Linked DNA regions of Homo sapiens. The protein of the gene in region 3 purifies or fractionates together with the protein of the main gene of each other region. This does not show direct contact. Each region holds a gene or a part of one and is shown on either strand. Other genes may lie near its edges.

Region 1 (3,674 bases), on a different chromosome or scaffold from region 3:
CAGCCTTCCGAGTAGCTGGGATTACAGGCATGCACCACCACACCTGGCTAATTTTGTAATTTTAGTAGAGACAGGGTTTCTCCATGTCGGTTAGGTTGGTCTGGAGCTCCCGACCTCAGGTGATCGGCCCGCCTCGGCCTCCCAGAGTTCTGGGATTATAGGCGTGAGCCACTGCGCCCAGCCCCACCAAAGTTTTATTTTATGCTTAACTACCCTAGGGATCAGGGGCTGGACAGTGGGAAGTACTATGTAAATCTTAATTTATCAGCTATCTTTGGGGGAATAGTCAAGCTAAGAAGATGGTTTTTTTTGCCAGGCACGGTGGCTCATGCCTGTAATCCCAGCACTCTGGGAGGCCGAGGCGGGCGGATCATGAGGTCAAGAGATTGAGACCATCCTGGCCAACATGCTGAAACCCCGTCTCTACTAAAAATACAAAAATTAGCCAGGTGTGGTGTTGGGTGCCTGTAATCCCAGCTACTCGGGAGGCTGAGGCAGGAGAATTGCTTGAACCTGGGAGGCAGAGGTTGCAGTGAGGCGAGATTGTGCCACTGTACTCCAGCCTGGAGACAGAGCGAGACTCTGTCTCAAAAAAAAAAAAAAAAATGCATCTTGTTTGTTTGTTTTGAGACGGAGTCTCACTCTGTCACCTAGGCTGGAGAGTGGTGGTGCCATCACGGCTCACTGCAACCTCTGCCTCCCAGGTTCAAGTAATTCTCCTGCCCCAGCCTCCCGAGTAGCTGGGACTACAGGTGCATGCCACCACGCTCGGCTAATTTTTGTATTTTTTAGTAGAGACAAGGTTTCACTATTTGGTCAGGCTGGTCTCCAACTCCTGACCTCAGGTGATCTGCCTGCTTTGGCCTCCCAAAGTGCTGGGATTACAGGCATGAGCCACTGGGCCTGGCCAAAAAATGCATCTTTAGATGATACAATTCATTCATTCAACAAATAGTTCTGAGCTCCTATTATGTGTCAGCTTCTGCACCTGAGGGGCTAGGGACAAAATGATGAATAAGACAGGCATGGTTTCTGCCTATTAACATCCAGTGGGGGCCACTCAATACTCAAATGAACAAATATGTAATAAAAAACTTTAGGCTGGGTGTGGTGGCTCACGCCTGTAATCCCAGCACTCTGGGAGGCCGAGGCGGGTGGATCACCTGAGGTCAGGAGTTCAAGACCAGCCTGGCCAACATGGTGAAACCCCATCTCTACTAAAAATACAAAAACTAGCCGGGCAAGGTGGCGGGCGCCTGTAGTCCCAGCTACTTGGGAGGCTGAGGCAGGAGAATTGCTTGAACCCAGAGGGCGGAGGTTGCAGTGAGCCAAGATTGTGCCACTGCACTCCAGCCTGGGCGAGAGGGCAAGACTCTGTCTCAAAAAAAAAGCACTTTATTTGGGAGATTCCAGGAAACATTAGTAGAGGCAGAGGAAATGAGAAAGGAGGGAAAATCATGTGGTATTGAGCGGAAAACTGCTGGATGACAGGGCTCAGTCCTGTTGGAGAACTCTGGGTGGTGCTGTAGAACAGGGCCACTCACAGTGGGGTGCACAGACCAGCACGGCTCTGTGACCTGTTTGTTACAGGTCCATGATGAGGTAAACAATACACTGAGTATAAGGGTTGGTTTAGAAACTCTTACAGCAATTTGACAAAGTAATCTTCTGTGCAGTGAATCTAAGAAAAAAATTGGGGCTGTATTTGTATGTTCCTTTTTTTCATTTCATGTTCTGAGTTACCTATTTTTATTGCATTTTACAAAAGCATCCTTCCATGAAGGACCGGAAGTTAAAAACAAAGCAGGTCCTTTATCACAGCACTGTCGTAGAACACAGTTCAGAGTTATCCACCCAAGGAGCCAGGGAGCTGGGCTAAACCAAAGAATTTTGCTTTTGGTTAATCATCAGGTACTTGAGTTGGAATTGTTTTAATCCCATCATTACCAGGCTGGAGGTGAGGTTAGTGGTGCAGGAGTTGCTGAGGCAGGTGGAAATCTTGTAATAAATGCCTAAAAATGTTTTAAGCAATTTGACTGGGCTCTGGAAAGCATTTTGTGATTCTGAACTAAAAGATGGACAAGTAAATTTTATCAATTAAGAACAAACACCCAGAGACTATTTCTCTTATCCAGAATTTATGACAAGGTCCTGTTGTTCTTATTATCAGTGATACTTATAATATGGTTTCTTGGGATGAGTAATGGAGTTTACTCCAAGAAACTCAAAGCATTTCATACATTATTTCTGTGATAAATCAGGAAATATGTGAATAATTATTTTATGAATATGTATTACCTAAAGTTCATTAGTTCACATTTTATTTTTGCATTCAGAAAATCTAATTCTTTACCCATCCTAACCTTTTAGCAAGCAATTTTGTAGTCACCCTCAGGCAAGCAATAGTGTAGCTATACTCTGGAAACCCTTCACTTCTTGAAGAAGGAAAAAGTCTTCCTGATTGAAAATTGGTGGCTGGGTGAGGTGGCTCACGCCTATGATCCCAGCACTTTTGGAGACCAACATGGGTGGATTGCTTGATCCCAGGAGTTCAAGAACAGCCTGGGCAACATAGTGAGACCTCATCTTTACAAAAAATAAACAAAATTAGCCTGGTATGGTGGCAGGCACCTGTGGTCCTAGCTACTCTGGAGGCTGAGGTAGAAGGATTGCCTGAGTGTAGGAGGTCGAGGCTGCAGTGAGCTGAGATCACACCACTGCACTCCAGCCTGGGTGATAGAGTGACACCCTGTCTCAAAAAAGAAAAAAAAAATTGGAAAGATCTGAGATGGTGTTAGTTTCAGTTGCCTGTGCTGCTCTCATTCCCTCTTTAGTACTAACATTCTGGATGTGTGTGTGTGTTGTATTTATTTTTTAGGACAGTTTATTCTGCGTTGTAGCAGCATTTGGCTGTTTCTACTACTGAATGAATCTTTGAAAAGCTGGTAAAAGACATGACCATGAAGAAATCTGAACTTTTTAATATTGTTAAATATCTTGACAAAATAAAGATGTTAGTAGTTTGACAACTGAATCTGTTGTGTTTTAGGCCTTATATTTTTAATGTTTTGATTTTGTTACACTATGTTCTGTTTCTTTCTTTCCTTCCTTCTTTCTTTCCTTCCTTCCTCTCTCTCTCTCTGTCTCTCTCTCTCTCTCCCTCTCTCTCTCTTTCTCTCTTTCTTTCTTTTTTTTTTTGAGACAGAGTCTCTCTCTGTCGCCCAGGCTGGAGTGCAGTGGCACAATCTCGGCCCACTGCAACCTCCGCCTCTTGGGTTCAAGTGATTCTTCTGCCTCAGCCTCCCAAGTAGCTGGGACTACAGGCAAGTGCCACCACGCTTGGCTAATTTTTGTATTTTTACTAGAGACGGGGTTTCACCATATTGGCCAGACTGGTCTCAAACTCCTGACCTCATGATCCATCCATTTCAGCCTCCCAAAGTGTTGGGATTACAGGTGTGAACTACTGCGCCCGGCCCTACTATATTCTTGTTACACTGGAACACAGAGAAAAAAGTAGGGGAAAAGCCATTTCAATTGTTCAAACATAACCAATGGTAAAAATTTTGGTATATTTTCTACCAATGTTTTTTATTTCCAAGGTTTAAAAAACATATAATTTTGTACCCTCATTTTTCATTTCTCATGATGTTATGAACAGTTTTTATGTCATT
Region 2 (3,652 bases), on a different chromosome or scaffold from region 3:
AGCATCACTCTGTACGTGAGGACAAACTTGTTGCCATTAGGAAACTGCAGCACCTGAGTTAAGGGTGAGGCCAGGATGAGTGGCATCCAAGCAGCCAGTGGCCGTTGAAGCAGCAGCTTCGATCCTCGCAAAGTCCTGCAGCCATCCTCACTCACCTTTTCTTTTTAACCATTCTAATATGTTTTTATATAAGTTTTCTGGGAGGCCAAGGCAAGTGGATCACTTGAACCCAGTAGTTTGAGACCGGCCCTGGCAACATAGGGAGACCTCGCCTCTATAAAAATTTTTTTTAAATTAGCCAGATGTGGTGGTGCATGCCTGTGGTCCCAGCTACTAGGGGGAGGATTCCTTGAGCCCAGTAGGTCCAGGCTGCAGTGAGCTATGGTCGCACCACCACGCTCCAGACTGGGCAACAGAGTGAGACCCTGTCTCAACAACAAAAGTTTCCTGTGTTGTAATTCATTAAAATTCTCACATTCTAATAATTTGATGGATTTCTAGATACATATGTTGTACACATTGAAGTCTAATTATGAGTTTGGAAATGAGACATTAAGAAAGATTTTAGAGGCAGCAAGAAAATTCCACCCTCTGGAAGCTGAGTAGGCGCTGGCCCTGAGATGGAGATTAGTGTGCTTTGCAGAGCACAGTTCTCAGGTGTGCTTGGGGAGCTTACCCTTTGCCCCTCGTTCACTCACGCAGATCCTGCTCCTTAAATGTGGTGACTACATTCGCATTAATAAAGAATAACATCTCAAAGCAAATTCTTCAGATAATACCTATTTTTGAGTGGGTAACAGCAAGTGTTGTCGCTCAAGCTTAGAGTAAGAAAAGTCTCTTGAATGTTCCATTTCATGTTGTTCGAACTTTTTAAAATCATTCTGTTCCCTTTTTATTCATTATATCTTTAATTAGAAAAATGATAGGCTGGGCGTGGTGGCTCATGCCTGTATTCCCAGCACTTTGGGAGGCCAAGGTGGGCGGATCACTTGAGGTTCAACACCAGCCTGGCCAACGTGGCAAAACCCCATCTCTACTAAACACAAAAAAAATTAGCTGGGCGTGGTAGCACGTGCCTGTAATGCCAGTTACCCAGGAGGCTAAGGTGGGAGAATTGCTTGAACCTAGGAGGTGGAGGTTGCAGTGAGCCAAGATCATGCCACTACACTCCAGCCCGTGCGACAGAGTGAGACACCATCTCAATATAAAAAGAGAAATGATAAATACATGTCATTTTAAATTTTAAAGTAGAATTTTTTGGGGGGGTAGCAAATAACTATTTGTTGCAGTGTTATGATTCTGATTTCTTTCGATTCTTAGGAAAGTGGAGAATGAGGACATGAATAAAGACCAGATCTTGCTGGAAAAAGAAGCTGAGGTAAGTAGGAAAGTACTATTGGTTGGTTGGTTGGTTGGTTGTTTTGTTTGTTTTGAGACAGAGTTTTGCACCATTGCCCAGGCTGGAGTGCAGTGGCGTGATCTCGGCTCACTGCAACCTCTGCCTCCCGGGTTCAAGTGATTCTCCTGCCTCAGCCTCCCGAGTAGCTGGGACTACAGGTGCCCGCCACCATGCCTGGCTAGTTGTTTTTGTATTTTTAGTAGAGACGGGGTTTCATCATGTTGGCCAGGCTGGTCTCGAACTCCTAACCTCAGGTGATCTGCCCACCTTGGCCTCCCAAAGTGCTGGGATTACAGGTGTGAGCCACCGTGCCCAGCCAAAAAGTACTATTCTTGTGACTGAAGGTGTTTTGTTTACATCCGTAGATATCATTGGTAATTAACTTAAAGTTTATAGTTTTTTTTTTAATTTGTTGAGGAGGATACATATAACTACTTTATTACTATATATACACATCTATATATAATAATAAACATGGATATTTACATAGCATACATGATGCTTCATATATTTAGCTGAAAGACTTTGGAGACAATTTAGTAATGTCACTGATATTTGTAAGTAGATCATAAATATGGAAATATGCTCTGTTGTAAAGGTGGCATTCAGATCTGCTGGAGTTTTGGAAGGCAAACACATTATTCAGTAAACAATAGGATCATAATGGGCTAGCCTTTTGGAAACAAAAAGAAAATACTTCTTTGGTCAAATTAATTCAATATTGATCAAATATTTAAATGTTAAAAATAACCACAAAGTCACCTGAAGAAAATTTAAATGTTTTATAATACTTTCCTGGAGGCATTTCTGAACACATACAAATCATAATGATAAGGATAAAGATGAATTAACATTTACTATTTTTGGCCAGGCACTGTGGGTTACACTTATAGTCCCAGCACTTTAGGAGGCCAAGGTGGGAGAATCACTTCATGCCAGGAGTTTAAGACCAGCTAGGGCAACAGAGTGAGACCCCCCTCGTTCTCTAGAAAAAAATTAAAAAATAATTAGCCATGCATGTCGGCATGCACCTGTAGTCCCAGCTACTCGGGAGGCTGAGGCAGAAGGATCCCCTGAGCCCAGGAGTTCAAGGATGCAGTGAGCTATGATTGTGCCACTGCAGTCTAGCCTAGGTGAAAGAGCAAGATCCCATCCCTTTAAAAAAAAAAAAATATATATATATGTATATGTATGTATATATATTATTTTTATTGTGAGGCCTTCATTGCCCTCCAGAAAAGCTGATTCATTCCCATTCCCCTTTACTTTGCATTTCTCACTGTCATCAGTCTCTTTCCCTCCTTTTAGGTTAGAAAACTTCTCATATTGGCCGGGCGCGGTGGCTCACGCTTGTAATCCCAGCACTTTGGGAGGCGGAGGCGGGTGGATCACGAGGTCAGGAGTTTGAGACCAGCCTGACCAATGTGGTGAAACCCCGTCTCTACTGAAAATACAAAAATCAGCTGGGCGTGGTGGTGTGTGCCTGTAATCCCAGCTACTCAGGAGGCTGAGGCAGGAGAATCGCTTGAACCCGGGAGGCGGAGGTAGCAGTGAGCCGAGATTGCGCCACTGCACTCCAGCCTAGGAGACAGAGTGAGACTCTGTCTTAAGAAAATTTATCATATTGTCTTATCTTTCTTTGGTTATTGTTTCTGTTTGGCTTGCATATTCGTATCATTTACTTGATTTTCTCTTTAGCTGTTGCTTTTTTTATTGATTGGTAAAAAGTCTTTATGTAATAACTCCTGTCATATTTTGGGAAGGTGTAGAAGTTGAAATTTTAGGAATCACAGAACACCCAGAAATAATGTTCAAAGACAGCAAACCTTGAAAACCTATAATGTGTGTGTGTGTTCACAGCTCCGCCGCATGCAAGAGATGATTGCAAGGATGCAGGCGCAGATGCAGATGCAGATGCAGGGCGGGGATGGCGATGGCGGGGCTCTCGGGCACCACGTGTAAGGTGATGTGCACATATCAAGAAGTCAGAGGTAGGCCCTGTTGTCCCTTAGCCTGGAAGACAGGCAGTTACTAACATTGTGTCAGCTTAAATATGACAGGTTCCTCCTTAAGCCTCATTAATATTTTGCATTTTGAAGTAACTCCATCACTAATCTTAAACAAGGAGAGATTGCTCCTGAAAAACAGAAGCCACTACTTTGCCACCTACTTTCTAGTAAAGATTTTTCATATTTTTGTCTCTTCTTTTTTTTTTAAATAATTTCAACTTTTATTTTATTGGGGTACATTTGC
Region 3 (3,652 bases):
CTCACCCTGTGCACAGCAGACCTTGTGCTCCCCAGTGGCCCACTGGGAGTTCAGGGTATGGGGGAAGGGAGCAAATTACTTGGTCTCCAAATCAGACAAATTCTCCACAGACAGTGTCCCTTGGCATAAAGCTCCTGAGAATGTCTCCTCTGGAAGGACAGTGTCATCTGAAAGCTCCTGGCCATTCAGGTCTCAACTTGGCAGCGGCAGCGTCTCCAATTTGGCCCTGAAGACCCACAGGCATTCAGAGCCCATGACTGTGGTTGGTGCTTGAGTCCAGAATGGGCAGCTCCCAAGTAGGGGGTTCTCCTTGGGGTTCACAGGCCTGGAGATCCCACAACCTTGTCAGTGGAGGAGGATGAGGTGGCCAGTCCCTCACCTTGGCAGCACTGCAGGGGGCGCCCGTGCTCTCAAGTCACACTGTCTCTCTCCCACACACATGCGGCGCTGTGCTGGAGGACGGTGGCGCGCTGAGCTTGTCTTACAGAGCATGCTTCTTTGGCTCAGCCTCACTGCTGCCACTCAAGTCCTTCCTCGTCACCAAATGCTTACCTGCATTTTTAAGGCCATCTACTCCACTTGAGAGTAAGTTCTATGAGGGCAGGGGCTTGTAAGCACATAGTAAGCATCTAGCAAATATCCATTGATTAAATAAATGAATGACTCTGTAAACCTCCCTCCACTGCTGACACCCCACTGATATGGGTCAGAAGTGGGGTCAGCAGTGGGGACGGGGTCAGGGATGTCTGTGGGGCATAGTTTTAGGATGAAAACCAGTGATTTGACACTTTGACATACCCACTTTTATGTGGCCAAGAAAAAATAATTGGGTTTTGGTGCCAGAACTCCTGTGGTCAGGAGCCACCACGCAGAGCCTAGGAGGCCCTGGCGCTGAATTGCCTCAGGATGGCTACAGAACACAGGACCCAGGGGTGGCCACAGGCGTAGAGCAGGCCTGGCTGCTGCTGGAAGTGCCCGTTTGAGACTGTAGTTAGCACCCTACACATCGTGGGCAGCCTGGAGCAGCCTGGCCCGGGAGGGAGATCCATGCCTTCCCACCTGCCTGACCTGACCCCATCCAGCTGAGGTACTGCTTCCCAGGCTGCAGACAGCAGCAGGTGTTCCAGACAGTGTGGCTCTCCACATGTGTGCCACATTCACCCCACCCTGGCCCAGAACCGCCCACGTGAACAGGCTTTTTTTTTTTTTTTTTTTTGAGACAGGGTCTAGCTCTGTTGCCCAGGCTGGAGTGCAGTGGTGCGATCATGGCTCTCTGCAGCCTCAGCCTCCCTAGTATACTGCTGGGACCACAGGCATGTGTCGCCACACCCAGCATTTTTTTTTTTTTTTTTTTTTTTGGTAGAGACAGGGTTTCACTATGTTGCCCAGGCTGGTGTCAAACTCCTAGGCTCAAGCGATTCTCCCACCTCAGCCTCCCAAAGTGCTGGGATTATATGCGTGAGCCACCATGCCCGGCCAAGACATTTTAACACAAACTTTTGTTAGCTGGACATGGTGGCACCAGTATTCCCAGCTACTCGGGAGGCTGAGGCAGGAGGATCGCTTGAGCCTGGGCAGTTGAGGCTGCAGTGAGCCATGATCACGCCACTGCACTCCAGCCTGGGCAACAGCGAGACCCAGTCTCAAAAAACAAAACAAAAAAAACAGACTTCTAGTTTTCACTTATTAACTTCACTAGTATTAAAGCTGAGGTAACTAACTCAGCCTACACAACCTTCAACACACACTACCTCTCACAAAGCACCTGAAGTGGTATTGTTGCATTTAGGGCTTGATGATTTGGAGTAAAAGACACTGATGTTACCGATTGTGCCTATTTTTATCAGTGGCTTGTTAATTATTTCTGTTTTCATTAGTGATTTTTATGTATGCAGATTGGTTAGCCATGAAACTGTTAGTCACTTCATTTCTGTTTCTTCCCTGTTGCAACAGCCCATCTTCGTGGGAAGAACCAAGCTTTAGGCTTGGCTCTGAACAGCCACAAAGTGACTTGGCTGAGGTCCTGCCATTTCGCTCATGCTCAGCAGGGGGCAGCAGACCAGGGCAGTTCAGAGTATGGGGTCAAACCCAGGTCCCTGTCCCCACTCCACCTGTGGATTTACCCTGGATTGGGCAAGCCCTTTAACTCTCTGAGGCTCCGTGTTCTCAGAGTGACTCGAGGATTCACTGAGGTGCCGTGTGAGAAGTGGGTGGCCCAGACCTGGACACAAAGAAGCCTTGATCAATGTTTGCAGTTTGATTAAGTGGGTAAATCTGCATATATAAAAATCACTAATGAAAACAAATAATTAACAAGCCACTGATAAAAATAGGCACAATCGGTAACATCAGTGTCTTTTACTCCAAATCATCAAGCCCTAAATGCAACAATACCACTTCTCCAGTTACCTCTTCAGTGAAACGGGAGGCACTCAGGCTCACCTCCAAGGACTTGGACTTGCTGTGATTTAATGGTGGACATTCCTCCTTACAGGGCCAGATCCCTGGAGCTGGAATCCAGGCTGCTTTGTCCCATTTTGAAATTTTCTTATTCAGAAGGTTCTGGAAAGCCAACAAATTGAGTTTGTGACAGAAATTGACATTAACTGGCTGGGTGTGGTTGCTCACACCTATAATCCCAACACTTTGGGAGGCTGAGACAGGAGGATCACTCGAGCCCAGGAGTTTGCAACCAGCTTGGGCAACATAGTGAGACCCCATCTGTACAAAACTTTTTTTTTTTCTTAATGGAGTCTCACTTTATCACCCAGGCTGGAGTGCAGTGAGGCGATCTGCAACTTCTGCCTCCCAAGTTCAGGCAGATCTCCTGCCTCAGCCTCCCAAGTAGCTGGGATTACAGGCACCTGCCACCAAGCCTGGCTAATTTTTGTATTTTTAGTAGAGATGGGGTTTCACCATGTTGGCCAGGCTGGTCTTGAATTCCTGACCTCAAGTGATCTGCCCACCTTGGCCTCCCAAAGTGCTACGTGAGCCACCACGCCTGACCTTCTACAAAAAACTTTTTAAAAATTTACCCAGGTTTGGTGGGGTGTGCCTGTAGTCCCAGCTACATGGGAGGCTGAGGCGGGAGGATCACCTGAGCCCAGGAGGTCAAGGCTGCAGCGAGTCATGATCGCACCACTGTACTCAGCCTGGGTGACAGAGCTCTTGCTCTGTCTCGCGGAGGGGAAAAAAAGAGAGAGAGAAAAAAGAAAATGACATTACCCAAGTCCAGTGAAGTATGTCGGAATTCCATCTTTGACACTAAGTAGCTGGGTAACCTTAAGCCAGTGGTCCTCCCACAGCCTACAACATCAGCATCACCTGGGAACTTGTTAGAGAAATGCAAACTCTTGGGCTTTGCCCCAGCCCCACTAAATGATGGTTCTGGGCGTAGAGCCCTCCAGGTGGTTGGGATGCCTGCTAGCTTGACAACCATGGCCTTAGGCAATTCATTGGAGCTCTTTGAACTGGAGTCCCCCCACCTGGAAAACAGGGGTGAGAATCCTGCCTACCTGCTGCCACTGTCGTGGGGAGGATTAGAAGAGACGACACACTGTAGAGTGCCCGCTGCCCGGTATGGGGAGGCCCCTCTTGCAGGAGCCCCTGCAGGAATCTTAAAGGTTTATCTTCCGTTTTCCCAGCATTTGGA

Evidence for each region.
Region 1: the proteins of DYNLRB1 (region 3) and DYNLT2B purify together in Homo sapiens (affinity purification with mass spectrometry; one large-scale study listed by BioGRID and IntAct). This does not show direct contact.
Region 2: the proteins of DYNLRB1 (region 3) and SEPTIN2 fractionate together in Homo sapiens (co-fractionation; one large-scale study listed by BioGRID). This does not show direct contact.

What each region holds. Positions count from the first base shown.
Region 1 is NC_000003.12:196,290,579-196,294,252, reverse strand, and holds the end of DYNLT2B (dynein light chain Tctex-type protein 2B), read left to right. Parts: intron 1-2,878; coding exon 2,879-2,926; coding exon of another isoform or gene 2,927-2,949; 3' UTR 2,950-3,034; downstream 3,035-3,674. UniProt on the Homo sapiens protein: Acts as one of several non-catalytic accessory components of the cytoplasmic dynein 2 complex (dynein-2 complex), a motor protein complex that drives the movement of cargos along microtubules within cilia and flagella in concert with the intraflagellar transport (IFT) system.
Region 2 is NC_000002.12:241,346,814-241,350,465, forward strand, and holds part of SEPTIN2 (septin-2), read left to right. Parts: intron 1-1,320; coding exon 1,321-1,378; intron 1,379-3,259; coding exon 3,260-3,361; 3' UTR 3,362-3,390; intron 3,391-3,652.
Region 3 is NC_000020.11:34,536,790-34,540,441, forward strand, and holds part of DYNLRB1 (dynein light chain roadblock-type 1), read left to right. Parts: intron 1-3,644; coding exon of another isoform or gene 3,645-3,652. UniProt on the Homo sapiens protein: Acts as one of several non-catalytic accessory components of the cytoplasmic dynein 1 complex that are thought to be involved in linking dynein to cargos and to adapter proteins that regulate dynein function.